Linked DNA regions of Homo sapiens: all the other regions are reported to be linked to region 5. Evidence: microRNA targets listed by miRTarBase, many of them from high-throughput screens and not tested one by one. Region 5 holds a microRNA gene; each other region holds the end of a gene's coding sequence.

The links. Region 5 holds the annotated microRNA hsa-miR-7110-3p (UCUCUCUCCCACUUCCCUGCAG, at 3,137-3,158, opposite strand). A microRNA usually pairs through its seed, bases 2 to 8, with sites in the 3' UTR of a target mRNA and lowers its output. Matches are read on the target gene's strand: a 7mer-m8 pairs with bases 2 to 8, a 7mer-A1 pairs with bases 2 to 7 and ends in A, and an 8mer does both.
Region 1: miRTarBase lists LEAP2 as a target of hsa-miR-7110-3p. Seed matches in the 3' UTR shown: 7mer-A1 at 1,492-1,498.
Region 2: the mRNA of PLXNA4 is a reported target of hsa-miR-7110-3p. Seed matches in the 3' UTR shown: 8mer at 4,054-4,061.
Region 3: the mRNA of PRLR is a reported target of hsa-miR-7110-3p. Seed matches in the 3' UTR shown: 7mer-A1 at 2,312-2,318 and 7mer-m8 at 2,313-2,319.
Region 4: the mRNA of FAM83F is a reported target of hsa-miR-7110-3p. Seed matches in the 3' UTR shown: 7mer-m8 at 2,521-2,527.
Region 6: the mRNA of PALM is a reported target of hsa-miR-7110-3p. Seed matches in the 3' UTR shown: 8mer at 4,370-4,377.

Annotation. Positions count from the first base shown.
Region 1 is chr5:132,873,524-132,878,607 of GRCh38, forward strand. It overlaps LEAP2 (liver enriched antimicrobial peptide 2), which reads left to right and starts at 145. Exons shown (of 3, transcript NM_052971.3): 1 at 145-228; 2 at 427-566; 3 at 887-1,523. The coding sequence starts at 172. The coding sequence ends at 923. It overlaps AFF4 (ALF transcription elongation factor 4), which reads right to left. Exons shown (of 21, transcript NM_014423.4): 21 at 1,872-5,084.
Region 2 is chr7:132,126,112-132,131,198 of GRCh38, reverse strand. PLXNA4 (plexin A4) reads left to right here. Exons shown (of 32, transcript NM_020911.2): 32 at 625-5,087. The coding sequence ends at 720. Among named protein-coding and RNA genes, the nearest start is that of PLXNA4-AS2, 130 kb to the left of the region's middle.
Region 3 is chr5:35,061,054-35,066,053 of GRCh38, reverse strand. It overlaps PRLR (prolactin receptor), which reads left to right. Exons shown (of 10, transcript NM_000949.7): 10 at 1-5,000. The coding sequence ends at 965. Among named protein-coding and RNA genes, the nearest start is that of AGXT2, 16 kb to the right of the region's middle.
Region 4 is chr22:40,028,686-40,033,772 of GRCh38, reverse strand. FAM83F (family with sequence similarity 83 member F) reads right to left here. Exons shown (of 5, transcript NM_138435.4): 5 at 1-4,257. The coding sequence ends at 4,208. Among named protein-coding and RNA genes, the nearest start is that of TNRC6B-DT, 13 kb to the left of the region's middle. RefSeq lists an enhancer at 2,533-3,052.
Region 5 is chr3:123,159,929-123,165,015 of GRCh38, reverse strand. It overlaps MIR7110 (microRNA 7110), which reads right to left and starts at 3,222; the gene lies at 3,137-3,222. PDIA5 (protein disulfide isomerase family A member 5) reads right to left here. Exons shown (of 17, transcript NM_006810.4): 16 at 3,561-3,695; 17 at 2,912-3,136. The coding sequence ends at 3,056.
Region 6 is chr19:746,333-751,419 of GRCh38, reverse strand. It overlaps PALM (paralemmin), which reads right to left. Exons shown (of 9, transcript NM_002579.3): 9 at 3,091-5,087. The coding sequence ends at 4,606. It overlaps MISP (mitotic spindle positioning), which reads right to left and starts at 308. Exons shown (of 5, transcript NM_173481.4): 1 at 249-308.

The DNA.
Region 1 (5,084 bases), not on the chromosome of region 5:
GCCCTTGAGCACATTCCTCCGGTAGACATTAACTTATTAAATTGATTCTGATTACAAATATAAACTTTGCCCCCATCTCACCCAGTAACAATGCAAGAGTTGATGTCAGTCTATAAAAGGAAGTAGGAACTGTCCCTGGCTTTCAGGCTCCAACATCCTCCCCCTGTCAAGATGTGGCACCTCAAACTTTGTGCAGTCCTCATGATCTTCCTGTTGCTGTTGGGCCAGGTAAGGAGGGAAGGATACTTATGTGTGTGTGTGGAGTGTGGAGATGATAGTGGTGGTGGAACTTGAAAGCTAGATTCAGTCCTGAGGAATGGTTCCTCTGTTCTGAGTCTACAGCATCTGCGGAATGGAATGATCACTCTTCCAAGGTGTGCAGCAGGGTGTCAACACTTTCATATCTGAATGTCTTTGCCCTTACAGATAGATGGCTCCCCAATACCAGAAGTGAGTTCGGCAAAGAGAAGGCCACGGAGAATGACCCCATTTTGGAGAGGGGTTTCCCTCAGGCCTATTGGAGCCTCCTGCCGGGATGATTCTGAGTGTATCACAAGGCTATGCAGGTACTCCCTGAACCTGGGAGCAGGGTTGGGCCAGAGAGCCCTGGGAAGCTGGGCAGAGGAGTGACAAGGGGACACATGAACCTAAGAATAAAGCTGGGATGGAGGAGTTCTAGACTGAGACTGGGAGCTCCATGGAAAATCCCTTAGGAGTTAGGAGCCAAGAACAGCTCTATGTGGGTACCATGAAAGAGTGGTGCCTTTCCATTCTTCAGTCTTTCCTGAGACTGGACAGATCAAGCAAAGAGGAAGGAAATGCAGCATAGGTGGCCCTGGTCATTCCTAGACCCAGTCTTAAAAAACTACCCTTTCTTTTCCCCTAGAAAAAGACGCTGTTCCTTAAGTGTGGCCCAGGAATGATGTACATACCAGGGAAAGAAAGGACAGCAGTCACCTCCGACAATGCTCCGTTCTATGGAATATTGATTAACTGCATTTTGGCTGGAGACACCCAAGTGAAGCAATCTTGTATTTTTAATATTTAAAGGCAGATGTACGCTTTAAATTGGTCTCCATTTCTTCTTAGAATGTTGATATATGGATAAGCATAACTAAACTTGTCAATTTAGAGTTTATTTTTCTATGGATACTATTAAATGTCTCAAATTGAAATTTTAGCAGTCTGGAATTCAAGCTTTTGAGGGAAAGAAGGATTCATTTTGTATACTAAAGAAAAAAACAGCATTGCCCAATAATGTGTTAACTTCTCAATCTGGAAAGTGTAGTGAGAGCTACATAATCAATAGCTACGTAATCAACTTCAGCAAGTTCCTAAGCTGTGGCCCTGGATCCCTTCACTCCATACTCTTCAGGGAGGTGTCAAAGGTGGTCAAGCTTGGGAGGCTGAGGCAGGAGAATCACTTGAACCTGGGAGGTGGAGGTTGCAGTGAGCCAAGATCATGCCACTGCACCCCAGCCTGGGTGACATAGAGAGACTCTGTCTCAAAAAAAAAAAAAAAAAAAAAAGATGGTCAAGCACTTGCCATCTAATGAAGCACCCAGGTTTGTCTATGGCTGTCTGAAGATAAGGCAGAACAGAGAGAAAAATCTAGTTTAATAAAGCAATGAAAGCCCAAGCCACCAAAAGCACCAAAAGAGATTTAAGATTTCTGTTGGGACAAGGTGAATTTTGACATATGCACAAGGACCCATGGCCAGCAAGTTCAGAATTTCTGTAATCAGAAAATGAGACCTCAGCTGGTGGGAACAGACTTTTAAAGAGTAGTAACGGACCTTAAGACACAAAACAGGAATTGCATGAAAAGGGCTCAGAGTTGAAGAAATATAAAGAGTACAGTGTTCAGTAACTTTAATACAGAAAATCTATTTGATATTTATTAAACTTAGTTTCTCCAACTATGGTTTGGCATTGTACAAAGCATCTTAATGACACAGTAGAGTTAAAAAGATCTTTACAAATTGAAATGTGATACCCTTGTCTCCAAATATTTTAATTGCCATAAATTTGTTTAAAAATACACATTAAACGCATGTTTGACACTCTAAACTTTCTATACTCTCAATACCACAAAATACATATAATATACTATACAGATGTGGAAAAATCTAGTTAGTATATAATACTTTGCTCACCATTAACAGCTTTATCGTGTGAAATGCACATACTGACTTAGAAATCCTAGCTTTTGAGCCCCAAAGTACCTCTGAAATTGTAATGTATTGCAACAAATAAAAATCACAGTATATAATTGAAATTCTGGTTGAAAATGTCAGATGCCTAAATATTTTGGATAAAAGAAATGTAAAACAAAGATTTGGTTCATGTACAAAACAAAGGCATCCTTATCAGTCACTAACAGTACCTTTCTGCAAAATCAACAGGCTTTTAATTTATCAGTGACATTATCTCCCCTCCAAAACCCTCCCCAAATATCAAACAATTATATACCAAATAATTTTAATTTCAAATAAAAGGATTTTCAATAAATATATAAGCATTTCCATCCTCCATATACAAAATTTCTTAAAACCATTCAAAACGGAGGCTAGATAGAAATTTTCATAACTGTGCTTACCAACCCCACAACTGGCCCTTAAAGGTGGTGCCTTTTCAGGCAATGTCAACTGGCCAGTTCTGTTGGTGAGCCCCCTACCCCCACCCCACCCATCCCAGTACTGTTGAATGCTCATGTTAATGATTTGCCAGGTGTGTGCATAAAGTTGTAAAATGGGGACACTTCTGGAACACCAACAACAAACTCAACAATATGGATGATCATGGCATTGATTTGAAAGGCAGCATTTCCAAATTGATATTTTCCAGAGAGGAACATAGCAGGTAGAAAATTCCAATGGTTAAAAGCTGAAAAGAAGTCCCACATGGAAGCAGTAAGAGGTCAAAACTGAGTATCACTAGAGTTTCTGGGTGGGAGCTTTTTTATTTTTAAGAATGGCAAGTTATGTTTAGCTGAGTAACAGTGGCAAGGAGAGGTCAATGCTGACATTCCTGAAAGTCAACTTCTTTACATGATGACTACTTAGGCTGCTATTTTAGGATACTTAAAGATCTCTAAGACTTGGATTAGACTTAACTTGAATACCTTATTCTGTGACCAAATTACATGAAAAGAAGATACATAGTTATTATTTCCATTCCCTTTTCTGGAGACAGCAAGTTCTTTCTAATTAACCATAGGGTTCATGTGAATAGGAGCTTTGTAAGACCAGCATCCACTTTACAGACTATTAATAATTTACTTTTTGTCACTTGCTAACTTGGTTTTGGGGTCTAGAGGTCTAAAGTGAATTTCTCCATTAGCGAGTATCTGAAAGACATGCTCACAAACATGAAAAATTTGGCCTCTTCTCACTACATATTCCAAGGTATTCAATAATTATCTCTTCTATTAGTTTTACTGAATAGCAACCTTAGATGTACAGTATTATTACTGGAAAAAAAGCCTGCCTCTTCAATACATTAATGCATAAAGCTGAAATGAAATTTATGTTCCATGTATTAGGGGATATACAGGTATGATAGGTGTCTATATGGGTTTGAAATGCTCTGTCTCCCCAAGTTACTTAGGTTTTTTAAAAAACATCATCACAAGCTGCCTAACAGTCATCCCCAGTAGATGTTCCTGGGACCCAGACACAAACTCCTATAAATCAAAATATATAATGAGGCCATACTGTTCAATTAGCAACTGGAAAATTAAAATCTTTCCCACCCTGTAAGAGCCCTACGACACTACAGAAGGGCTCAAATACATTTTAAAAGTTAATTTACTACAAATCATAGTAATTAAGCTTTAACAATCTAAAGGAATACACATTGCACCCTTGAACATTAATATTCAAGGTGTCAACAAGAAAGTGTCTTAGATCAATTTAATAAATAATGTGGAAATAGTTGCACTAAGCTAAAATACTAAACACACACATATTTGACAAACTAATTTCATGTTTTCATACATACATACATATATATAAAGTGTGTATGTGTACAGAATTTTAAGATCCAAAGTTGCATACCCTTACACCTAGAAGAGTGCACAGTGTACTCCTCCTCTATATAACTAGGCATCACTGACTGGAACAATCACTGGCTGCTCTGAAACTCCAGAGTACTGGCCTCTAGAGCCAGAACTTTCATTTATAACAAGTGCCTTTTGTAGGCTCTTGCTTCAGAATGCAAGCTCATTCATGAAGAAATGTACCAACGTTTCTGTCATTAAATACAAAATTATGCTGTCTGATCTGTCTGATTAAACCTTTAATGAAAAGAAACGAACAACAATTTTTTAAAAACTAGTGAATCTAATAAAGCCAAGTGTGTCATTCAAAGTGCAGCCCAAGTGCCTATGAATCCGCCACTGCCAGAGCTCCCAGAAACACAGGTGTCTGTGGGCTCACGCACACTGCTCTCAATTGTTTTTACACTAGAGAATTAAATAAATGGTGGTCAACCTTCTCCACTCTTCGGCAGCTGTAGCTGTAAGTTTATCTGAAGTACTCACTGCATATAAAGTCACTTCTTGGCTACTTGCCCAGAAAAAGGTGGCACTGAGGCAAGGAATGGGCTGGATGCTCTCTAGCCAGACTGGAGCCTGGGCTGAGCTGTGGAAACTCCCCTGAAGGGGAATGCTTCCCACAGCCCAGCCCAGTCTGGCCCAGGCAAGACTACTGTGACAACTGCAACCACTGCAATTGGTTCGTTGGTTGCTTGTAAAGAGTCTAATGGTGTATAGGCTGCTGCCTCCTGGCATACAAGTGTAGTCATAAAGAGCAGTCAACAGAGTAACTGTTTAAAATAGTTGTTGTTTCTATAATTAACCATATACTAAGTACAAGTCTCAGACTAAGTTTTTAGCCACTTGTCAAATTCAGTTTTAAATGCTTAGAAAACACTGAGGACACCTATTGAGGAGGGAGGGGGGAAGGTCACCTGTAAAGGAGTCCAAAGTATGTGCTGGAGCAGATGATGACAAAGACAGAACATCTAAGAAGATAGACATGGAGGAAAGGGAGTAGTATTTCCACACACTATGACATTGAAAA
Region 2 (5,087 bases), not on the chromosome of region 5:
TGCTAACTGCCTGCCTTCAGAAAAGGCTTTGGTAGACATTATCCATTAGGTGTTAATGACCAGGAAAGCTTGTAGTCTTACTCTTCTAGGGACATTTGTTTTTTAACAGGCAAAGTGAAAACAAATGACTTTCTAAATGTAGAATTTGGGGCCTCAAGGAGCTGATGGATTTTTATTTCTGCGGGAGGAAGGGTGGGATGTCTTAACATCCATGAAATCACATTCCGGCTCCATGCTGAGCACTACGCATTTCCATCGGATATGGAACTAGCTGCTGTCTAACCTGCAGGTAACTGCAGCATCTCGGCACAGGCACTTTCAGCAGAGCTTCTGCCCTCTGTCTACCATCTTTTGTAGCCAGTAGAATGCACACAGTCATTCAGACATGACTGTGTGTGCTGGCATCCTGTGCTCACTGCCATGCTGATGCTCACATGCTATGCCTGCCACAACTTCCTGCCCATGCTCCCCAGGTCTCCTCCTACCCCGCAGTGTCCTGTGTGCCCCTGCACATGCCTGTGGCTTCCCGGGCTTCTGACCACATCCACACCATCTTTGTGCCTCCTGAGAACACAGACCTGTACACACAAATGAGTAATCTCCCTGTTCTTGGCCCTTCCGCAGATCCTTGGACCTCTGGACCACGATGACCAGTGTGGGAAGCAGAAACTGGCCTACAAACTAGAACAAGTCATAACCCTCATGAGCTTAGACAGCTGAGAACCGTCCTTCCAGGGCCGCCCTGGAGGGGGACACACCAAGCCGTGCCTCAGTCTAGATTATCATCTTTACCAAGTGCAAGTTCCGACTGGCATCAGCAGCATCCCCTGAGCAGCGCTGTTTCTCTCTCTTTCTCTCTGCCTCTTTCCGTTTCTCCCTCCTTCCTGGATCTCTTCTCTTCCAGTTGCTCTGCCAACACGATTGGACCAAGCCACTGACCCTCAGTTAGTCCAAGAATGGCCAGGCCCATGGCAAGGGAGCTGACCAGAAGATGTCAGAGAGGCCTCTGTCTCCCAGGTGCTCCTGACCCTGTGCATGTCAGCAGCAGGGTGCAAATAACGAATGAGGAGCCAGGGACAGGGGACATTTCTGTGCTGCTACTTCACCTTCCACTTTGGCAGCCCCTGCTTTGGTCTGAGCCTTGGCCTAGGGAAGAGGCAAGGAAGGACTTCAGTATTATCTTTACTGGGAAGACATCACCTGGCTCTCCCTTCCCACAGTTCCATCTCCAGTGGTTCAGCCAGTGGTCTGATCGCTTTGCAGCTGTGAGAAGAAAGGCTACACCTCCTGCATGTGGCTGGAGCAGGGCATGTGTGGGCAGCTGGGAGGTGCTCCTTGAGGCTCCTTCTCCCCCACTGGGCTGGTGTCCAGAGGCTTCCTGTCCTTTTCCAGGTCTCCAGAGGGACCTGCCTGCCCTGCCTGCTCCCCCGCCAGTAGAAAGCCAGGCAGGAGAAAGAATAGCAATTACATTCCACCATGGAGATGCTCCTGACCTTTTCATCTGAATCCTAGTAGCAGAAATGTAACACAGGGGGAGAAAAGGAAAGAGAGTTGCATCTACCCTGGAAGCAGAATTTGTTTTCCATTTACCCTCAAATTCAAATGAGTCACAATCATAGTCATAGGTCTAGTCCACTACCAGAGCCCTGAGTGCTGTCAAGAGAAAGCATCTATCTCCACCCTCCTTTGTCAACCTTCATCAAGGGTCAACGTGAAATGCAGAGTGCATCTAGGAGATTCTACCTCCAGCCATCTCCATGGCTCCATCCCCATCATCCTTCCTGAGAACTCCATAGACGGCTGGGGCCAACAGCCTAGTCCCTGTTCCCTCTGCAGAATCCGGTGCCATTGCTATGCAGATGACTTTGTCACTGGGCTGTCCAGACCTCTTTGGGAATGATTTCATCAACATCTCAGCTGTCTCTCATCATTCTCCTTCCTCATCTCTTCAGCAGTCATCCTTGAAAGAAACAGACTTAAGCAAAGCCTCACGGAGACAGCCCAAAATGCCAGCCAACCTCAGCCTCCAGCTTGTCAGATCTGGGAGGGACAAAGAGTCGAGCTGATGGGCCTGGCTGGAATTAAGAAGAGGGACATACAAATGACCTTGGCCTTGGCATCCATCTCCCCATCTGTTCTTACATCTACAGATGCACGATTTTAGCCAGGCAGGCAAATGTGTGCCTAGAAATTGATACTAGGTAAGCAGAGGCTATGGGGAGAGATGGTCTAATGGAGGGTTCTAGGAACCTTTCATCCTAAGGAGACCTTAGGTGCTGTCTGGTGCAGTCTCCCATCCTAAGCAGGAGTCTCTGTTGGCACCTCTGCTCTGGAGTTGTTCACCACTATGGGAGACAAGGAGAAACATCTTAGGTGAGGTTGAGGAGAAGGATTCACAGTCTTGCCTTCACTCCCCAAACATCAGACATCATTCCTTGTCACCCACTCAGAATGAGCCCCCCTTGGGGAAGAAACCACACCATTTCCAGCAAAGTCCATGGAGCATCCGGTACTTTTAAGAACACTTGCCCCTTTGGATATGAATATGTGCACATGTGTGTGAGCACATGTATGTGTGTGTGTGTGTCTGCCCCAGGTGTAGGCGGAAAGCTCAAAAGGATTTCTTGTCCTTTGTAGGAGGATTTTTGAAGTGTTCCCCTTCTCTTTCCCCTTGCTCATCCATTCATCCTGCAGCTTCAGGACATTTCAACACTTACTTGCTTTCTATGCTGAGAGCTGGTGGGTGGAAGGAGAGGGCGCTTGTCCATAGGAAATCAGGGTGGTCGCCTGCCGAGGCCTGGACCTTGGAACAGGGCATCATGTGACATCGCAGAGGACAGATGGTGGAAAAGACATGAGCAACCTAATGGGAAGAGGAAAATGGGAAACAATGCATTGGAAGAGGAAGAAAAAAAATAAATAACCAAAGGTTTTGGCAAGTGCAGTACCAGGTGGAGAAGCTTGACTTTTCTATCCTTGATCATTTTATTCCCTCCCAAGAAGTCAGTCACAGGACCTGGAAGGCCAGAAAGGGTACATGTGGGAGACGGTCTGAGGAAGTACCTCGGTCACTACAATATTTTTGCACATATAAAGGGTTGGGGAGGAAAGAGACACAAACGTATTTAACACAGATTTGCTGGATGGAAGCTGCGTGTGTGAACGTGTGTATGAGTGAGTGCATTTTGATTTTTTTTTTTTTTTTTTGCACAGTTAAGAGAAAAAATCAAACAAGCAGAAAAAAAAAAGAAAAAAGACTTATCACGGTTCTGCTGAAGCTTTTATTTTTTACTGGATGATGATTATTGTTATTGTTACTTTGGCGGTACAGGACTTTATTTTATTCCATGTTTTTGTTATAAGAAAAATTTCAAACACCTCAGAGAAATAGAAAGGTTAGGAAGAAAGAGGAGACAAGGACAGACAAATTTTCTGGCTGTCCCCATTTCTCCTGGGGGAGGGGTTTGGGGCTGGTTTGACTTTAATTGGTGGGTGGGTTGTTTCTGCCGCTCTGTTTGCTGCAGTCCCCGTGGCCTGCTTGGGGACTGAGAAATTTGAGCCAGGTATCCAGAGCCACAGCCCATCTTGCTTATAAAAATTATCTTCTGCTGTTTGTTTTCCATTTCTTCCGTTTGGATTCTTGGTGCACGTGTGATATGGTATTTAAAAGCAAAGACAAGCAACATTGTCAAAAAGCTGTCCTTGCCCCCCATCCCCCACCCAAATCTTTTTTCCAAACTCCCCCAGGGATCTTCCTTACCCCACTGGCAGAGCAAACATCCAGGGGCTGTCCATGTGGCTTGCGGGCTCCCAGAGAAAGGAATTGGGCCAACTTTGTCCTGTGGGATGGAGGCCCCTTCACGGCCTCCCTCGAGGCAAAGTTAATTTGTAGGGTCACCATTATGTTGAGTCATGAGCAGACAGAAGGAGAGAAAAGGCCATCTTCCTTACCTTCCCCTCCAACTTATCCCGTACCCTCCCAGGGAAAATGGTACCAGACTGAGCCATCAAAATCACTGACAAAGTTTAGGTGGGAATTTTTTTTGCATGTTGGAGAGAGAAGGGCTTAAGGTAGCAGGGAAGAAGGGGGCTTTGTGGGGTCCTAAATTTTAAGGAATAAGTAGAGGAAGACAAGAAACAGAGTGGTAGGCTGGTCATTTCTCCTGGCCACAAGTCCCCCCAGATGCAGCTTTTACCCATTCTTTGTCCTTCCCCATAAGGAGAGACCCTGACATTTCTTGGTAGCTGCAAATAGTGCCACTAAGTGAAGGTGGCCATCATGCCAGTTACTTCCTCAGGAAAATATTTTCTTGCCTTCTTCTTTCAGTATGGTTTTAAATTTGGGAACAGTGGATAACCCAAGTGTCCCACAGGCCAAGGTACATTCCAATGGCAGCATGATCCCTGCACCCAAAGCCAGCCCCTAAAGCCTACCCCTTGTGCACCCGCAGCCTGGTAAGTGAGCTTGGCTGCTTGTGAGGAGCTACAAGTGAAAGAGAAGTTATTTTAAATAAATCCCAAAGTTTGAGGCAGACTGTCCAGGACTGTTCCCAGGAAGAAGCAGGAGTTACCCACAGGAAAAGTCTCTGACCTGGTCCCCTCAGGCCCAGCTACCTGCGCCCACCAGCAGTGAAGGTTGATGTACTGGCCCAGCATCTCCACCTCCCCCATGCAACCAGGTCCCTGGTACCGTGTCTCCCGTTGCATGTCTGGCTTCTGCCTGTGCTCCTCCTGCCACGAGCATCCTCCCTGTCCCTCCTCATTCCACCGTGTCTCTCCTGCACACATAGCCTCTGTCCCAGGGCGATTTATCCACTTGAGTACAGGAGCTGCTCAGACCTCTCAGCCCAGCCCTCTGTGACTGCCCCAGCCCCATCCTACCCCACCCAAAGCTGCCTTCCTGGCTGTAGGAGCTCCCTCGTCTAGCCAAGGCCCTATGGGTCCCCATCCGAGGATCCACAAGCAATGACTTCCCAAATGACCTCCACTGCAAGAAGAATCCTTACCACTGTTTCCAGAGCCGTGAACGATGCTGTGATGGGCCCAGGTCTCAGCACCACCCTCTGTGACCTAAAAAGAAAAGCTCA
Region 3 (5,000 bases), not on the chromosome of region 5:
CTCCCACTTCTGACTATGAGGACTTGCTGGTGGAGTATTTAGAAGTAGATGATAGTGAGGACCAGCATCTAATGTCAGTCCATTCAAAAGAACACCCAAGTCAAGGTATGAAACCCACATACCTGGATCCTGACACTGACTCAGGCCGGGGGAGCTGTGACAGCCCTTCCCTTTTGTCTGAAAAGTGTGAGGAACCCCAGGCCAATCCCTCCACATTCTATGATCCTGAGGTCATTGAGAAGCCAGAGAATCCTGAAACAACCCACACCTGGGACCCCCAGTGCATAAGCATGGAAGGCAAAATCCCCTATTTTCATGCTGGTGGATCCAAATGTTCAACATGGCCCTTACCACAGCCCAGCCAGCACAACCCCAGATCCTCTTACCACAATATTACTGATGTGTGTGAGCTGGCTGTGGGCCCTGCAGGTGCACCGGCCACTCTGTTGAATGAAGCAGGTAAAGATGCTTTAAAATCCTCTCAAACCATTAAGTCTAGAGAAGAGGGAAAGGCAACCCAGCAGAGGGAGGTAGAAAGCTTCCATTCTGAGACTGACCAGGATACGCCCTGGCTGCTGCCCCAGGAGAAAACCCCCTTTGGCTCCGCTAAACCCTTGGATTATGTGGAGATTCACAAGGTCAACAAAGATGGTGCATTATCATTGCTACCAAAACAGAGAGAGAACAGCGGCAAGCCCAAGAAGCCCGGGACTCCTGAGAACAATAAGGAGTATGCCAAGGTGTCCGGGGTCATGGATAACAACATCCTGGTGTTGGTGCCAGATCCACATGCTAAAAACGTGGCTTGCTTTGAAGAATCAGCCAAAGAGGCCCCACCATCACTTGAACAGAATCAAGCTGAGAAAGCCCTGGCCAACTTCACTGCAACATCAAGCAAGTGCAGGCTCCAGCTGGGTGGTTTGGATTACCTGGATCCCGCATGTTTTACACACTCCTTTCACTGATAGCTTGACTAATGGAATGATTGGTTAAAATGTGATTTTTCTTCAGGTAACACTACAGAGTACGTGAAATGCTCAAGAATGTAGTCAGACTGACACTACTAAAGCTCCCAGCTCCTTTCATGCTCCATTTTTAACCACTTGCCTCTTTCTCCAGCAGCTGATTCCAGAACAAATCATTATGTTTCCTAACTGTGATTTGTAGATTTACTTTTTGCTGTTAGTTATAAAACTATGTGTTCAATGAAATAAAAGCACACTGCTTAGTATTCTTGAGGGACAATGCCAATAGGTATATCCTCTGGAAAAGGCTTTCATGATTTGGCATGGGACAGACGGAAATGAAATTGTCAAAATTGTTTACCATAGAAAGATGACAAAAGAAAATTTTCCACATAGGAAAATGCCATGAAAATTGCTTTTGAAAAACAACTGCATAACCTTTACACTCCTCGTCCATTTTATTAGGATTACCCAAATATAACCATTTAAAGAAAGAATGCATTCCAGAACAAATTGTTTACATAAGTTCCTATACCTTACTGACACATTGCTGATATGCAAGTAAGAAATAATGCCTCCAATTTTTTCTTAAAATAGTTTAGATATGTTAAGCATGGATTTTCCCCCTAAATTCTACTCTAAAGCTTCTATAAAATATAGTTTGGAAATAAAAATGTTCTTACACAAGGGGCAAATGAATTTCATGTGAATCCCTTTAGGATGTTTTCCTCCTTCATTTCAGCATGATAGATAATTTATTATACACCTTAGTCTTTCCTTAGTTAAAAAAAAATTCCCTAAAGACTAACTTGAAAAGAAAACCACAGCAGGATGCTAATGGAATTACTGCCTTACTGTACATACAAATTCTACTTTAATATAAACCCATAAGTTTAACTGTATTTTTGAAGACTATTTTTCTATGACTTAGGTAAAATAAAAGACTATTTTCTATTTTCCCAGTACAGCTGTTTATGTATTCAGTGGGTACAGTATTTTCTGCTGCAAGGTTATAATGTGTATTTACAGTACATAGTAGTATATAAAGTTCCCGTTTGTGGAGTAAAATGCCATACCAACCCAAAGCCCACTGTGAAATATGAAGTGAATGACAAAATTCAGTTTTCAACGCAATATAGTATAGTTTATCTGATTCTTTTGATCTCCAGGACACTTTAAACAACTGCTACCACCACCACCAACCTAGGGATTTAGGATTCTCCACAGACCAGAAATTATTTCTCCTTTGAGTTTCAGGCTCCTCTGGGACTCCTGTTCATCAATGGGTGAATCTTCCTAAAGCTACCATAAAAAGGGAGGGCGACGATTTCTAACAGCTGTTTAAAAGAGAGAGGTTTTGCTTTTGTGAGAAATCTTGGGCCACAAAAAAATTTTAAGCAAAGCCAGGAGTTAGTGTCTCTCTGAAGTAAATTCAATTGCAAAATCTTGGCAGAGGCAGAAATGGCTCATATCAGAAGTGTCCAAATAAAAGTTCTGGGAAACTAGGTATTTGCTTCCCAGAGCAATGGGAATAGCTCCAAAGGTCAGAGTAAGGTAATGAGAATCTCCCGGTCAATTCCAGTGCCAGGCTTCCTGAAAGAAGTCAAAGCTTGGATCCTCATTTTAAAGGGCGCATCCATGACTCATCTAGCAGCCCCTCTCTATTTTTCCCTTCACTTGATGGTAAATCCATTCTATATGTCCATTTACTAGCTGGACATAGAGAACTTGAGCTCACCTCTGGGAGTTAAATATTCCACCCCAACTATCCCATATTGATAGCAACTGGACTCAGAGGTCCCCCTCCTGTTTGAAAGTGAACACATTGCCAATGTTTTGAGAATGGCAAAAGCAATAGATACGAAGCTCCATTTTTCTAATATATAAACAATATCATGTGAGTAAGGGAAGCGTGTGGGAAAGTTGTCCAAGCTCATTCAGTCCCCTAAATCCTCGATACTTTAACTGTCTGAGAACCAACTGCATAGGCATCACCTGGGCAGTGTTTGAAAATTCCATTTGCAGAATCTTAAGCATCAGAATCTGCATTTTACTAAGATCCCCAAATGATTCAATTGCACACTGAAGTTTGAGAAGCATTGTTCTAGACAACCATTTCCACTAAAGGTTATTTTAGTTCATAGTAACAATCCTCTTTTGGAAAGGACAGATCAAGTCTGTTTGACTTGCAATGAACAACACTGCATGTAAGCAGGCAAAAAAAGAAACATATCAGTAGTTTAAGATTCACATTATGCTGAATCTTATATGAATTCACATAAAAGAATGACCTGCAAAACTACGCACAACTTCTGAAAGGCCAAGGAATATAATCTACCTTGAGAGACATTAACCAAAGACAGTCACCCTCAAAGCCAATGCAGACTAAATCTTTCCTAACATAGTCTATTCTCTAAGAATAGAGAAGATATGTATCAGTCACTCTTATAGTCTGAAAACCTAAACATAAAAGTAATCTGCTTTTGACATATAATTTTGTATAATACGTATGAAAAAATGTGACAGCTAAGGACTTGAATTAAATCCCTAAAAAACAATTAGCCACTCATTAGGCCAAGACTTTAATTCTATGATCAATTAGCACTGTTTATCTGAATTAAGCTTTTTTGTGGTCTAACAAAAAGTTTTTTTGTGGTCTATCAAGGAGACAGCTGTTCAAATGGAAGGATACATGTGGGGCAGGGGGGCGGTGAAGAGACCTAGATTCTGGTCCTAACTGCTTTGCCTTGGAGAGATTAATTCCCCCCTCTAAGCCTCAGTTTCCTCTGAAGATGTTGGACCAGATAACCTCTAAGGTCCTTTGAAACTGACTCCTTGATTCCATGACTCACTGAATATTTTTCTGCAAAGATAATCCCAACCAATGCCTTCTATCCTAATCTAACAAAAAATTGCTCTTCATCATAGAAATACAAAGTAATCTTCAGTGATGTGCTCTTTATACTTTGCTTTTTAAACCGTCCATTCCAGTTGGTCTTAATATATTGCACAAGTATTTTATAAGTGAAATGTGTACAGAATCATATTCTAAGATTATGTGCAAATATATGTGTAGAAAGAGGCATTTAAAAAAAGAGGCAGGAGATTGAGAAGAGACATATTGAATGAGGCACTAATCTTTAGAAAAATGATCTTTTACTGAATCAAGCCATGCTCATTCCTTGCTGAATCCAACAGCCCCAAATCTCTTTTCTTATATTTGGCTGTTAATTTTTTTCCTTGCACCATCCTAGATTGTTAACAACCATTGCACAGTTGGCTCATGTATCCTTACACTCTGAGTTATAATAAGTTGTATTTTTATAAACAAATACCTAAATATTCAAGTTTTAAGGCGCATGGAAACTGAATCTAGGCAACGGGTGATTTGTGTAGCTTACAACCTGAACAGCAAGATGTTCCAATTCATTCTAACAGATGTGTATAAGCACAAGTTATATCAGCTGTGTCAGATATTTAACAGATCCTACATTTATTAGCTATATAACAGACTCTACATTTTCCTAAGTGCCTAAGACCAATCCTGGTAGTCACTTAAGTACAAAAGACTCACTTTAACTGGCTTGGTCTGAAGGGGTCAATCCTTTACTGCCTGTACAAGATCTGGGCAGTTTTGCTCTGTGTCTTGTGATGACCCAGCTGAATGTGAAAAGCCTATGAGTTATTGAGCAACCAGAGGTCCCTGCATTCCAAGTTGCAGTTTAGCTCTGGGGAAACTCTGGCTTTCTCTTTCCTCAAGTGTCCACCACTGCCCATCATTTGCAGAAAGACTTGGCCCTGCCTTTAGCAACTTCCCTATCTCCTTAGAGTAGACAAGAAAGAAACAGATTTGTGCACATTTTACAAAGTGCCTTCCTCTATTTTTTTTTAAAGTTTTCATTTTGCAAGGAAAAATGTATTGATTAGAAAGTAACATTTGCCTTATAGGGATTATATATATATATAGATATAGATATAGATATGTATGAATGGAGAGATGAGAAGAAGCCAGAAAGGGCACAACAAAATGGTCTA
Region 4 (5,087 bases), not on the chromosome of region 5:
CCCAGGGCAGAGAGTGCATTGAAACACTTCGGAGAAGTGGCCTGTGCAGGCCACCAGGTCAGGACTGTGAAGAAAAGAGCCAGTGCTCTCAACGGGGGCACTTTTACCCCCCAGGGGACATGTGGTAACATCTGGAGACATTTTTGGTGGTCTCATCTGAAGGAGTGCTAGTGGCATTTAGTAGGTGGAAGCTAGGGATGTTGCTAAACGTACTATAATGCACAGGGCAGCCCCATCCCCAACAGAGGATTCTGCAGCTCCAAAGCATCACCATTGCCAAGACCCTGAGCTCAAGGAACAGACTCAGACCTGCATTCTCTGTGACGTGGGATCTGGGGAGAGTTGTGTGCCTCCTCATCTGAAAGATGGGGATAATGAACCTTAGCCAGGCTGGGCGTGGTGGCTCATGCCTGTAATCCCAGCAGTTTGGGAGGCCAAGGCAGGCAGATCACCTGAGGCCGGGAGTTCAAGATCAGCCTGACCAACATAGTGAAACCCTGTCTCTACTAAAAATACAAAAATTAGCCGGGCGTGGTGGCGCGTGCCTGTAATCTCAGCTACTCAGGAGGCTGAGGCCAGAGAATCACTTAAACCCAGGAGGTGGAGGTTGTAGCGAGCTGAGATGACGCCACTGCACTCCAGCCTGATCGACAGAGCAAGACATTGTCTCAAAAAAAAAACAAAACAATTACTTGCGCTTCTCATCATACAACCTTATGAGACCCACTCCCCCAATACACAGGAAAACTGTTACCTTTCTAAAGGGCTCTTTGTTGAGCTTTTCTTAGTTTGAAACCTTCATGTTACTAAAGCATCTAGCATGGTGACTGGCATATAGTAGGTGCTCAATAAATATGAAAAAGAGAAAAGCAATACAGTAGTAAACAAAAACAAAACAAAAAAATAGCCTGGCCGGGTACGGTGGCCTGTAATCCCAGCACTTTGGGAGGCCAAGGCGGGCGGATCACAAGGTCAGGAGATCAAGACCAACCTGGCTAACATGGTGAAACCCTGTCTCTAATAAAAATATAAAAAAATTAGCCAGGCATGGTGGTGGGCACCTGTAGTCATAGCTGCTCAGGAGGCTGAGGCAGAAGAATGGCGTGAACCCGGGAGGCGGAGCTTGCAGTGAGCCAAGATCGCTGTCACTGCACTCCAGCCTGGGCAACAGGGTGAGACTCTGTCTCAGAAAAAAAAAAGAAAAAAAAAAAAGAAATAGCCCACTTTCCCCTCTTTGGCCAGTTTCTTCCATATCTCTGGGTCTCATTTTTTGCCTAGCCTTTCTATAAAGTTCTACACAGGCAGAGGGTAGTGATGTTAACAGAGGCTATCTTGAAAGCCCTCGAGGGGTCAGGGATAAGATTAAGGACAGGTAGCTAAGGAGATGGGAAGTTTTGCCAAATCCCAAGGGGCAGGCTCCCAGATCCATCCAGAAGTCCTGTGCTTACTGCCCTTGTGGGGCAGAAGCAAGCGTGGCGGCCGCACCAGGGGCTCAGCTCACTGGGAGGTTAGGTTTCCCAAAGAGCTGCACCAGCTGTGAACACTTACCCTACAGAAGCTGACTCAGAAAGACAGCAGCTTGGTGGTGGTGTGGGGTGGGAGGGGGGTGCAGTGAAGCCAGACCCCAGCCCCGAGAGTGCTGCCTTATCCTGTTCCTCCTAGAGCCCTTCCAATGTAACCAGCCTTGCAGAAGCTGCTGTGCAGGGACCAAGGGCATGATCCACCCTTGAACTTGCCATCCAACTGGGAGGGCCAGATGTACCCTTGAGATTTGATGAGTAAGAGACTGCTTCACAAAGTATGTGCAAGTGCTGGAACAGAGGGCAGGCGTACTCACAGCTGAGAAGCCAAGAGGCAGAACAGAGTGGGCCGGTGCCTAGGCAGACAGGCAAACATGAAGAGCTGCATTTTGTGAGTTCAAAATCCTTGCCATCTCGGACTACAGTTTCTGTCTCAAGCCTTTTGGAGCGGGGGGTGCCGACACCATCTTGTCCACACTGCTATAAGGACGAGGACACAGGCCAGCAGGGAGAGGCACCCTGCCTGGGCACTCCTGCCTTGTGGCTGGCCCTCTTCCCACTATGCCAACTTGCTTCCTAACATATGGTCTCCCCATCATTTCTACCAAGAAAGTGTGAAAAACGCCATCTTGGCACATGGAGAAACTGAGGCAGAAAGGAAGGCCTGGCTCAAGGCTGTGGTGACTTGGAGATTCCAATCAGGGATCCTCCCAGATTAGATGTCAGGGCAGGGGAGGGACCTGGGTGTGCTTTGGGCCTAGAGGAGGTAAAGGGACAAAGCAGGGCCTGCTCTTCTGGCAGGGGAGGCACAGATGCCCTTGGCTGACTTGCTTGGAGGCCGGTCCCTTCCCCAGGCTGCCTCCCTAATCCCCAGAGACACCCACCCTCCACACCAGAGAGTGATCTCTTTGCCGCGTTGCAGTTTACACATTTCATGTCCCATACCTTCAAGGTGTCCGCCTCGAGCTGAGGTGTAACACCCCCACATCCCACCTCCCCCCTCTCTCCCTTCCCTCCCCTCCAGAATGAGCTCATGCCACACTGCCTGGTCTTGGTGCCTAAGGAAACACTTCCCAGAAGCATTTCACCTTCATAAAAGCTCAGGGAGGTGGGCCAGAGTCCCTTCTCCACACGCCCTAGAAGCCAGCCTTGGGATTAACAGAGAAGACCCTGGGGACAGGCTCACCCTTCCTTTCCCTTCCCCTCCCCACTGCCAGAGAGATTGCATCTCCTCAATGGCCGCCACATGTGGTCCCCACTTCCTGCTTCCTCAGAAGCAATGCCTGGCTCCCACAGCCCAGCCAGAGCAGCCCCTTTTCTTGCTCTCACATCAGCTGCCTTGCAGACATCTGTACCCCTCCCCCAGGTGCTGGTAGTGTCCTAGGGTTTTTTAGAAGGAAAGAAAGAGGATGAGAGTTTGGTTCAGAGGTCAGAGGGCAAGAAAGTCCGCTGCATGGCTCTTCCACAGGGCTTGGATCCCCCATCGCCCTGCCGGCAGGGCCGGCTCACAGAGTCTGCAGTTTGGCAATTTCTCCCAGGTCCATTCACAAACTCTCCTCGGCCCTCTCCAGTCACCCAAGTGGGGAAGGCAGAATGGAATTGCTTACTGGGCCTCCCAGCTCAGCCTCATGGCCATTAGGCTGACCTGCTCTGGCGAGGCACAGGCTCCTAAAAATGGCCTGACTCTCGCAGGAGGCAAAGGCCAGTCTGGCCAAAGTGTAACCTGGAAGCCCTGGTTGGTGAAGGGGTCCGAGGACCCCGTTAGAGTTGAGGGAGAAAAGGCAAATGCTCCTGTCCTCAGGGCCCAGCCTCCCACACCCCCAATCCCCTCTCAGCCAAGCTCCCTCCCTGCCTTGGGCTGTAAACCAAAGTTTACTGACTGAGGGAAGGAGCAGTCCCAGGTAAAGGCCCTGTAAGGACCCCCACATAGGCCCGCAGCAGGCAGCAGCCAAGGAGGTCTCAACCACCCATGCCGAGACTGCCAGGACGGCACTGGGCAGGGAAAAAGAGACCTCAGTGCGAGCGCTCTCAGAAAAGCAGTGTCAAATTCTGCCCCCACTGCGGGAGGCCGCAGGATCTTACCCTCATTCAAGTCTAGTTCAGGAGCCTGCAGGGATGGGGCCAGGAAGGCCACTGCAGCCAGTGCCCCTGCAGTTCCAGCTGCACCTTACATCTGGAGTTCAGAGGCTAGAGAAAGACTGGAACTTGGGATCCCAGGCTCAGGGCCCTGCCCTCTTCCCTTTTATTCCACCAATCTCTTGGGTGGGGAGTGGCGTGGGGAACCAGAAGCACCAGGAAGCCTGGGAAAGGAGAAGCCACTGCAGCTGCCCCAGACACCCCACCCCATAAAGGTTTAAAGAATGGGCCCTCACCCCATCTGGCAATCAGCGGAGGGGGTGGGGCACAAAGGCGAGCAGACACTGGTCAAGCTTCCACTTCATGTAAACAAGGAGGCCGTGGCACTGACCCCTGCCCAGCCACCGACAGTCCGGTGGAGGCGTGTGACTGAGATGCTTCGGACCCTCTCATTTGGGATCCAGCGTCCCTGAGGCCAGGACGGAGGCTGCAGGGCAGAAGGCCAGTTGGCGTCTGATGTGCAAACTGGTGCAGTGTGCGACCTGCGCTCTCCACAGCACAGGGCAGGGCAGGCAGGCATCCACACGTCCTGCCCACCACCATCCCGCAGCTCAGGAAATCACACAGTTGCTAGGCTTGGCAGAACTGGGACTTGTTTTACCTGCAGAGGCAAGGGACAGAGGCGGGGAAGGATGTAAGTGAAACGCTTGGTGGATTCAGCTTCAGTTCCTACCCTGTGTGCTGTCCACATCTCCAGTTGAGGGGCTGGGGTCACTGTCTCCCTCCCAAGCTGCTGATCTGGAAACCAAGTCAATAGGGCACCCGGGAAAGTAGAAGGGAAGATTCTGCCTGTCTCAGCAGCCTCGGCAGGAGCCCCACTGGGTGGGACATCAAGGTGACAGCCATCTCCTGACCAAAGAGGGGTCGGGGAAGGATCCAGGCTGCAGAATCAATGACAACAACCATCAAGTCCAAAGTCTTGGCTGCTCTGTCTACAGACTAGCCATTCTTTTGTTTCTTTACTTTTCTAATAAACTTGCTTTCACACACACACACACACACACACACACACACACACACACACACACACACACACGTCTAGCCAAGAGGCCGCTCACTACCAGCTAGTACATGCAGCTCCACCGCCTGCAAAGTAAGACTGCGGTCCTTCTCTCTGGTTCCCCTCCCGGGCTGCCGCATTCTACCGCTGAGGTGCCCACAGCTCCCAGAGCCAGCCAGCGACAGTGCCAGAACCTGGCCTTCCCGGTCCAGTTCCAGCTCCTTCCGCCACAGGCCGCCTAGGCTGGAAGAAGGAAAGCTGGCGCCTCAGGAAAGGCTGGCGCTGGCCAAGAGCTGCCACCGTGGGGTGGATCACACTGCTTAGGACGCGCCTTTGAAGGGAGGACAGAGAGGAACGCGCTGCCTGTAGGGAGGGAAGGGGGAGAGAAAGCTGTCCCCCGCCCCCGGCCAGAGAAGCTGATTTCTCTTCTT
Region 5 (5,087 bases):
TGATTAAAATGGTAAATTGTGTGCTATGTATATTTTACCACAATATAAAAAGGCATAGACATACACACCTTCACTCAGCTGCAGTAGCCAAATTTCAAGTACTCAATACTCATATGTGGCTAATGGCTATTGGATAACACTGGCCTAAAATAGAAGATTTTGGAGGTGACATATATTTGGTGGGACCATAAGCATAATTTGGTTTTGATAGATAGCTTAAGAATATCAGCTTCCTTCTTCTAGTCAACAATAAAAGAATGGGAAACAGTAAGAGCACAATGCACAGAGTTTGGTTCTGAGCACCAATGTGCACTCACTCTCAAACTGGGAGCCTCCTGCGGGCAGGGCTGGTGCCTGTGTTATTCCATGTGATGTGGGCAGGTGATGTAACCCCTGGACATAGGCTTTGCCTTCCTAAGAGGGCCTGATGCTTTCCAGATGAGATTCCACATCTTCTTACGTTGCGGTGGAGAAAACCAGCTTCTGAACCTGGAAGCATCACCTTCCCGTGCCCGGCGCAGAACAGCTCCTGGAAGCCAAACACCTCTAGAAGGGGAGGGAGCAGCATGAGGAAGGTAAGAGAGACAGGGTCCTGCTCGGAAGGCTCCAGTTAGGTGGTGATGGGGACTCACTGCTGGGCAAGGGGCACCAGAATAAAGATGGGGATCAGTTCTCCCCTAACTCACGTACTTCCTGCAGAGAAATCAGCCTGCAACGCAGGATCCAGGCGAACAGAGGAGGGTGATAGCAAGCCCTCCAGTGGGGCAGAGGGAGGAGGTCTGCACTAAACATCAGTGAAACCACAAAGAACCAAGCATGGTGACTGGGAGTAGAACTAACCCGGATGCCAGGGGGCGAGTGGAGGAAGAGAGTTCTGTCCGCAGGGGGAGCTGCCCAGAGCTGCGACGAAATTTGCTGAGGTCATGCCCAAAGTCAATAAATAGGGATGTGAAGAGGATTCCATTTCATGATGTGTTAAAAAATTTCTTTAAATCTATATTTGACAATATTTCATGTTTTTAAGTCTTCAAATAGAAGCTAAGCCAGGAAAATCTGAACTCTGAGGATGTGGAATGGCCAGAAAGTAAGCCCTGTGCCTCGCAGGTGGGCACTAGTGGTCCTCAGCCAGGAAGTGGCTCTTGTGAGATTATTATTGAAAAGGTGCAGTAAAAAAAACCCAAAAACAAACAAACAAAAAACTTTTTTGAAAAACACAAGCAAATATGTTCCCCCTACAAATACTCCAAATAACGAAGGAGACCCATGTCCAGACACACACATGCTAGAATGGTAAACACCTGTGTCAGGATTAAATGACACCTTGTAAGATGTTCATGGTCCCCAACAGGAAGGGACTCAATAATTGTGTTTCAATGATGTCTAAATGTATGCTTCTGTCTTTCATATCCAATCCTTGGGTGAAGTCCAGGGGCCACTGCCAAGGAAGTGGGTGCTTAGGGGAAAAGAGAAGAGCTGAACTGGCAGGAGGGTCAATTGGAAAGTTGGAGAACTGCACAGAACAAGGGCTCTCAAAACCTTGATTTCCCTTAATGAAACCACCCACAGTGGCACCATCGTCAAAACAGCTGTGAAGAACTTGGAGGCTCTGTCCTCCTCTCAGCAGATTCATCAGCAGGAAGGACTTAGGCCAGGAGGAAGGGAGCTGGGTCCAGGAAAGGAGGGCTGTTCCTGCAGGCCAAGTCCCCATCAAGGCCACCAGAGCGTGCTTCCAAGTACTGCAGCTTAAGCAACGCCCCCCTGAACTACTGGAGGAATCCAACTCTAGGACCGCTACTTATAACTAAAGACAAGATACTAGCACAAGGCCACTCTGCTGTCCATGGAGAAATACCACCAAGCAGACAAAACATGTTACTGCTGTGCTCAGGCTCTGCCTGCACCGCTGGGCACAGGGCTGGGGTGTCAGTCACGCAGGAATGCAGAAAGCAGGAGGACTCACCAGAAAGGTGGGTCAAAAAGGAGATGTACACAGGCAGGAGGCCGAGCAAGGCACCCATCCATGGAAAACGTGGCGTAAAGATTTGGGGTTATTATGGTTGGTGGTGGGGGCTGGTGAGCAGATCTAATATCTGCACCTCGAGAACACACCATCCCTTCCAGCCAGGGTGCACAGCAAGCAGCTGGCACAGAGCCCCCCTTCCCCCACTCCATTCATGCCCCTGAAGCGGCAACTTAATTTTCTTTAAAGGGAGATTGGGGAGGGAATGGAGAGACGAAGAGAAGACAAATAGCTGGAGAAAGATAAATACCTAAGTAAGTTCCAGGAAAACACACACAGAGGAAACACACCAATGCTGAAACCGCAATGATCCAGAAGAAGCTAGTGTTTGGTTACCATTTGCTTCAGCATCCCAATTTCCCTGATCATCTTTTGTTTTTTTCTTTCTTTTTCTTTTTCTATTTTTGAGACAGGTCTTGCTTTCTAGCTAGGCTGGAGTAGTCATGCGATCATAGATCATTGCAGCCTTGAACTCCTGGGCTCAAGAAATCTTCCCTTCCCAGCCTTACAAGTAGCTGGGACTATAGGCATGTACCCCTATGCCCAGCAACTTTATTTTCTGTAGACATGAGGTCTCATAATGTTTCCCAGGCTGGTCTTGAACACCTGGCTTCAAGTGATCCTCCCACCTCAGCCTCCCAAAGTCATTGATCATCTTGACGTATTTCCTCTCATTAGCTTGTCATTTTCCAGCAGGATATTCTGCGGTCCAGTTTCCCTGTTCTGCTCTCAAATGACTGACAGGGGGCCGACACCCTCAGGAGTCACCTCCATGCAGATGGGGCACTGGAGCACTGCTCTGTACCTCCCAGCAGAGGTGGTGGAATGAGGAGGATGTGAGTATCCACCTTTTTTAGTACAGGCTCCACGAAAATAAACCATACCACCAAATAAATGGTTTAATTTTATTTCAAAATTGTACAAAATGGCCATAAGCGGCTATAAAAAATTTGTCTTCAGAACATGTGGAAATTCAGAAACAACAAAACAGGTATCATTCACAGTGTAATGGAAAAGCTTTTTCTGAGGCAGGAATTATAACTCTTCCTTCTTTTTCCCTAGTCTTTCATGGTCTCCCTCCCGGAGGGCTCGAATATAATTGGTAAATCCCAATTCCTGCAGGGAAGTGGGAGAGAGAGAGAGAGAAAGAGCTTTAATCCCTGAGCTGGCTGTGCACTCTCTCTCCCCACACCCCCAGCCCCTCCAGGGGGTCACTCCTATGACAGGGAGAGGTGGGCAGACTTCTGCAAGGTGGAGAGGGTCTGCGTGGCTTGCACCAGCCCCGACCAGCAAGTGAGAAAACCCTCGGCATCTGGAGTCCAGCCTGCCTCTGGGGACAGGACATCTGTGGCAACCCCTTGGGACTCTCCTCCAACAATGTCAAGCCTCAGCCAGGCCCAGGGCCTGGGCCTCTCGGTGCAGTGTTCCAGCTGACTTCTGCAGTTTCTGGGATGCTGCCCAGTGCTGCCCCTCCTCAGTGGAAGTTTCCCTGCCCATCAGCAGAGAGAGAGCTCTGGGCAGACGCCTCTCCCCCACTTACTGTGCGGTCGCTGTCATACTTTTCTGCGAACTTCCCATAGTGGTAGTAGTGGAAAGTGGGGTAGCCCTTGACCGCCTCCTGCTGGCACAGGTCTTGGTTCTTGTCTTTGACACAGTCAACAGCGGCACAGGCAATCTAGGAGCCAAGGTAAAGAGAGTTGGCACAGGGTGTCCCCAGGCTGAGGCCTGGACCCCACAACACAGATTGCACATCTAGTCCACGTCACAGGCCCACTCTGATTTTTCTCCTCAGTGGCAGGTAGGAACTGAACCAAAGCACCCCCAGCTCAGGACTCCTTGGAGACTGATGGTGCTTGTTTTCAATTTCCAGATGGGTAAGGTTAGGGGACTCGGCCTGGAGTGCCTTTAGACTGTCCTTTAAAATCAAGAGTATGATGATCGTAAAGGAAATGATGACTTGAAAGCATTTGTAAACACCACAGGTTCTGTGGTGCTATCTGTAAGGGACTGTAGGATTTAATCATTTCTCCACTAATATTTCCGGAACATTAGCTTGGGGGGACAGTATAGTGCCAAGGTTAAGGGCAAGAGCTTTCAAGTCAAGTTCCCCAAGTGCACTCTTGGTTTGCCTGGACAGTAAGACTTAAGGAAAATAACTCAGCCTCTTGGTGCCTCATTTTTTTCAGCTGTAAAATGGGGATAATAATAGTATCTAGGCTATCAGGATATTGTGAAGACTGAATAAGAGAATTCCAGTGAGGCCAGTGAGCACAGAACCTGGCACCAGATTCATGGTCAGGAAATGTCAGCTGCTATTACAGTCACTTCTTCCAACCCCATATACAAGCTCTGTCCCCACTTAGGGGCTCAGTGTCTGGGCAGGGGTTGGATAAAGGGACAATTCCAACATGATGTGATGTGAGGGATGAGGGAGGTGGTCCAGGTGCCAGGTGAGTGGGGCAAAGGCGCTCTGTATGATTCGCCATCTGAGCCAAGACTGGAAGAGGAGGAGACCAGGGAAGCACATCTGGAAACTGGAGGAGCCCCGCATGAGTAAAGCCATCAGAATGTTTGGTCAGAAAGTGGTTCCCACATTGGCCACTGGCCTCTTCTTGACCATCTAGCAAATTCCACATGCTGGGTAGCTTTTCCTCATCATTTGTTGTTTTTTCAAAGGAAGACAGTATAAAGCAGAAATGGGGAACTTGTTTCCGGTTGAGGGTCATGCACCAGGGAAGCCCGAGAAGGGGTCCTCAATGGCCATACCCAGTACAGAGGTGTTATGGAAGATGGGGCAGATTCCCATGAGAATGAGTCCTCCTACCAGGCAACACACACTGAAACCCTGCCGTGTGCCAAGCCTGTTCTAGATGCTGGGGGACAACGTCGACCTTGACAAAGTCCAGTTATCAAGCGTCTGCTGTATGACAAATTAGATCATTTTAGATAGAGCTCAATGAATGCTTGGAAGAAATTAAAAGAGGGTGATTCAATAAGATAATTTAAAATTATTGAATAACCATGATTCACACAGTTCTTTGGTTGATGGTTATTTGCATTTGGACAA
Region 6 (5,087 bases), not on the chromosome of region 5:
ACAAGGGCCTCTCTGCTCTCCCAGTGGGTGCCCTTGAGGCCCCAGAGTACCTAGCGGGGGCAGAGGGAAAGGTGCCTCAGGGAGGCTCCGAGGGTGACGGGGTGGGGCAGGGGGCCTCCCTGGATCCCAAGTGCCGCCAGGCAAGCAGACCCCGCCCACAGACACATGACGCTCCCACGCCAAATGTGGATCCAACCGCCCCACACAGGATCCCCGCCCGGCCCGGCCCGGGGCGCCCCCAGCCTCACCTGCCGGCTCCCGGCTCCACAGTCTGCAGCCTCCACTCTGACTCCTCGATGGGCACAGAGGCCTCCCAGCTCCGCCCTGCCCGCCAGGTTGCCAGGGAACAGAGGCCCCACCCAGGGGAGGCAGGTGTGCCCCCTCCCCCCAGCCCCACCTGGGATCAGGAAACAAAGTCCAGAGGAGGAGGAGGGAGAAAGAGGATACCAGGCTGGGCAAGGGCGGGCACCGTGCCCGCTGCCGGCTGCCCCTCCACCCCCAGGGCCTCCAGGTGGCCCCGAGGAGCCAGAACTCAGCCGAAACCTCCCTTGGCTGCCTGGCCCTCCCACCGCCTCTCAGCACCGCTCAGAGAGGGTCAGCAGGTGTCCAGGGCCACACAGCAGCTCAGCGTGCACAGTGGCCTGTGTCTCCTGGGGGGCCGGAGGGGCTGAGTCCCAATCCCGTCCGTGCCTTCTGGCCCAGCCCACCCCTTGGGGCAACTCCCCTAGATGGCCCCCTTCTTGCATAAACCAGGTTTGGCAGACTCGGGGGGGTTTGGTGTGGCCTGGGTTCTGATCCCACCTGACCTCTCTTAGCCCTGTTTTCTCCTCCGGGACGTGGGGGAACATCACGCCCGGGCTCCCTCAGGGCTGCTGGGAGGAATTCCCTAGGCCCCATCCACATAAAAACCCATACGAGGGGGCCGGACTTGGTGGCTCACACCTGTAATCCCAGCACTTTGGGAGGCCGAGGCGGGCGGATCACTTGAGGCCAGGAGTTCGAGACCAGCCTGGCCAACATGGCGAAACCCCGTCTCTACTAAAAATACAAAATTTAGCGGGGTATGGTGGCACGCTATTATAATCCCAGCTACTTGGGAGGCTGAGGCAGAAGAATCACTTGAACCCAGGAGTTGGAGGTTGCAGTGAGCCGAGATCACACCACTGCACTCCAGCCTGGGCGACAAGAGCAAAACTCCAACTCAAAAAAAAAAAAAAAAAAAAAAAAAAAAGAACCGCACGAGGCCGTCAAAAGACCCAGGCCACCCCGAGAGATGGGGACGCAGAGGCCCTCAGGCGCCCATGGTCCTCCTGGATTCTTAGTCAAGGTGCAGAGGCCTTGCTGGGACTGTGGGGAGCCCAGCATCTGTGGGGAAGTCGGGCCACTGGGCCTAGCGCCGTCTATGAGGGCAGGGAACACAGCTGAGGGGGCAGGGACTTCAGTTCCCCAGGCTGGGGCTCTGTCCTGACCTACGCCAGAGGGGCTGCTTGTGGAGCCCCTCTGAACCTCAGTCTCTTCTTCGAGTAAAAAGGCCCCCAGCTACGAATCCAGCAGGGCTGCTCAGGAGGGGGGTGCTTTTTTTGTGTTTTTTTTTTGAGACGGAGTCTCGCTCTTGTCACCCAGGCTGGAGTGCAGTGGCACGATCTCGGCTCACGGCAACCTCCCCTGTTCAAGCAATTCTCCTGCCTCAGCTTCCCTAGTAGCTGGGATTACTGGCATGAGCCACCACGCCCAGCTATTTTTGTATTTTTAGTAGAGACAGGGTTTTGCCACGTTAGCCAGGCTGGTCTCGAACTCCTGACCTCAGGTGATGCCCCCGCCTCAGCCTCCCAAAGTGCTGGGATTACAGGCGCGAGCCACGGCGCCTGGCCAAGATGGGGGTGTTTAAGGACAAATCTGGATAAAGGGCCCCCAAAGGACAGCGTGGCACCTAACGCTGCTGGGTGTGTGAAAGCTCAGGGTGCGCGGCCTCACGGCGCCTCCCACCGCCGCCTCCCGCCACCCCCTTCACGTCCTTTTCTCCCTGGCTTGTAGATAGGGAAACGGAGGTACGGAAAGCTTAAAATCGCGCCTCAGGAATGGCGGGGGTTTAGGCTGGAATTGGAACCTGAGTTCCCTCAGCAGTGCTCTCCACCACACTCACCACCTCATCGGGGAAAACTGAGGCCCCAGCAGGGTGGAGGCTGGATCGCCCATGAGCTGGGGGCACTGTGGAGACGTCCCACGCCCAGGCTGAGGCTGGCCTCCCACTCAGGGCTCCGAAGGCCTATTTTATTTTATTTGAGACAGAGTCTCGCTCTGTCGCCCAGGTTGGAGTGCAGTGGCACGATCTCAGCTCACTGCAGCCTCCGCCTCCCAGGTTCAAGCGATTCTCCTGCCTCAGCCTCCTGAATAGCTAGGATTACAGGCGTGAGCCACCACGCCCGGCTAAGTTTTTGTATTTTTAGTAGAGACAGGGTTTCAGTATGTTGGCCAGGATGGTATCGATCTCTTGACCTTGTGATCCGCCCACCTCGGCCTCCCAAAGTACTAGGATTGCAGGTGTGAAACACCGTGCCCGGCCACGAAGGCTTATTTTACAGATGGGAAAACTGAGGCCCAGAGGAGGCAGCGACTTCTCCAAGACTACAGCGTGAGAGAGTGGGGCTGGCGGGGCAGCACCTTCCCGTGAGCATGACACTGGTCTCTACAGACACCTCCTCCCCAGGCCTCCTGTGTATTTCCCAGGGGCCGGCTTCTCTACAGAGCTTGTGGGTGTCCAGGGGACCCTCTGTCATCACCCAGGGGCTGTGAGCCCAGCAAAGGGAGGAACAAAGGACAGGACGGGGCGGCCGCAGAACCCGAGGGCCCCCCGGGAAGCCAGTCCTGCCCCCCCACAGCAGCCCCTTACAGCCAGGCCTTACCTGCACAGTGGGGATTCCAGCGCCTCCCACCACCCCAAGGCGCTCAGGGTGAGCGGGTGCAGGCAGGTGAAGCCAGCACACCGCAACCCTGCTCAGCCTCCCTTTAATGGCTCAAAGGCCGGCAGGCCCCACCCCCTGGCCTGGCCACGCCTTCCTCGCCAGGTTGAAAGGCAAGAACTCCAGGAACTGGGGCTGTTCACGCTGTTTATTTGCTTCTCTGGGAAAATCAAGAACATCGGGGGCCTCGTCACACACCAGAAGCAGAGGGGGTTATAGCAAGGGCACTTCAGCGAAGGCTCGCGGCTCGAGGGACTCAGGCAGACTCCAGGGAGGAGGAGGGGGTTCCACGGCTGACGCCCAGGTCACCCCCGAGAGGGCCTCTCCTCCCAGCCACCCAGGGGCAGAGCGGAGGCAGGGACCCAGGCTCCCATCCGAGGTGGCCCCTGTACCTGCCCTGCCGAGGCTGCAGGTGGTGACTGGACCAGGAGGTGGCCTGAGCACTGGGCACCAGGCTGGAGGTCCCTAGGGCAGGGACCAAGTTGGGGCCTGGTTGTCCAAAGCCAACGTGTGAGACGGTGTCTGTGAGAATGTGCACGAATGTGCCTCTGGGGACGAGTGTAGCTGCCCCCAGGAGGGAAGCCCCTTGCCACTTCCAATGAGAGGGGGCTGGGGGCAGGCTCACATTGGTCTGGGTGGCAAATGAGGGTCTCCTGCTCCAACCCAAGAGGCTTCCTGTCCCAGGCTGTGTCCCTCCCTCCACTGCCCGGACGTGCTCCAAGCCCAGTAGAGCTGGCAGGTGGGGCCTGATCTCGGGGTATGGTTGGGAAGACCCAGGACCCTGGTCCAAGCAGGATGGAGAAGAGGCCGGGGGCGGCCCCTGGGGTCCCCAAATTAGCACCAGGAGGAAGGAGGGCCCAGTGGGGGCGGGAGCTCGGGACAAGGAGTGGCTCACTCGGTCCCTGCCCTGTGCAGGGGGCAGGTCAATGACCCCTGGTTCGCCCCGTCTAGAAGATAGCCCAGGGGTTACCGGCCCCTCCCGGGTGGGGGCATGTCCCCGGGGTTCCCCCTCCCCCAGACTCCATTGTCCACTGGTTGGGCCCACACAGGGCATAGGGGCACAGCAGAGGGGCCTGTCCTCCACCCAAGACCTTTAGCCCCCAAAGAGGCACGGCCTCACCCCAACTGCCTGAGATTGGGGGGCCAGCGCCTTGGCCAGGGAACCCCATAGAGCCTCACTTCCAGGGCCTGAGCAGGCCTCAGTACCCACCCCCGGCTCCCGGGGCCCTCTCTGGCGGGGTGTCCCCTCAGAGAAAGGCACAGGTAGGAGGCCCAGAGGGTGGCAGGCTGGCCTGGGCCGCGTGGAGGCTGCGGGTCCCACCCGCCAGGACCCCGGTGGGCGCGAGCCGCGTCTGTGAAGCTGCCGTGACATGGGGGGTCCTTGTCTCGGGAAAAGCGGGTCTGTCCTGTCTCTCTCCTACCAGGCACAAGTGCACGGCTCTGGTTCGGGGGGAGTGTTGGGGCGTGGTGACGGGTGGGGGCCCCTGTCCCTCTTTCCAGCGAAAGAAAACTCGGAAGGAACATGTAACAACACGCCAAGTCCTGGACCCGTGAGGCTGTGGGTGGAGGGTGGGCAGGCGCCGGGAGGGGCCGGGCTGGTGGGTGTCTGTGGTGTGGGGTGGGGGCCGGGGTCTCGGGGGCCGGCTCACATGATGGAGCAGCATTTACAACGGTGCTTCTTCATGTCGAGGTCCTGGGGGTCGCTGGTGGTGGCCTCGGGCCCCGCCTGATTCTCTTCCCTGGAGGCGGCCTCCGTGGGAGGCTCGGCAGCACTGCCGTTGGGTGGTGCAGGCTCCTTGGGCTCAGCCGCGTCTTCGATGACCACCAGCTCCGCCGTGATGGTATCTTGAAGGCCCAGCACCTTCTTGGTCTCGGCCTCATCCTCCACGTTCTGGTAACCCATGAAGATCATTGTGACCGGGGGCTCCTGGCCGGGCTGGATCCCCGGCGGGCCGGACGTGGCCTCGCCTGGCTGTGCCTGCACACCGGTGATCTCCCGCCGGGAGGGCGTGGTCCGGGCTGCCCCCTCCACAGCCCCCCGGGTCTCTGCCGCCCCGGCCGTGGACCCTGCCTCGCTCAGCGTGACCTCGTCCGCTTTGTGGATGAGTTCGTCCACCTCGGAGGAGC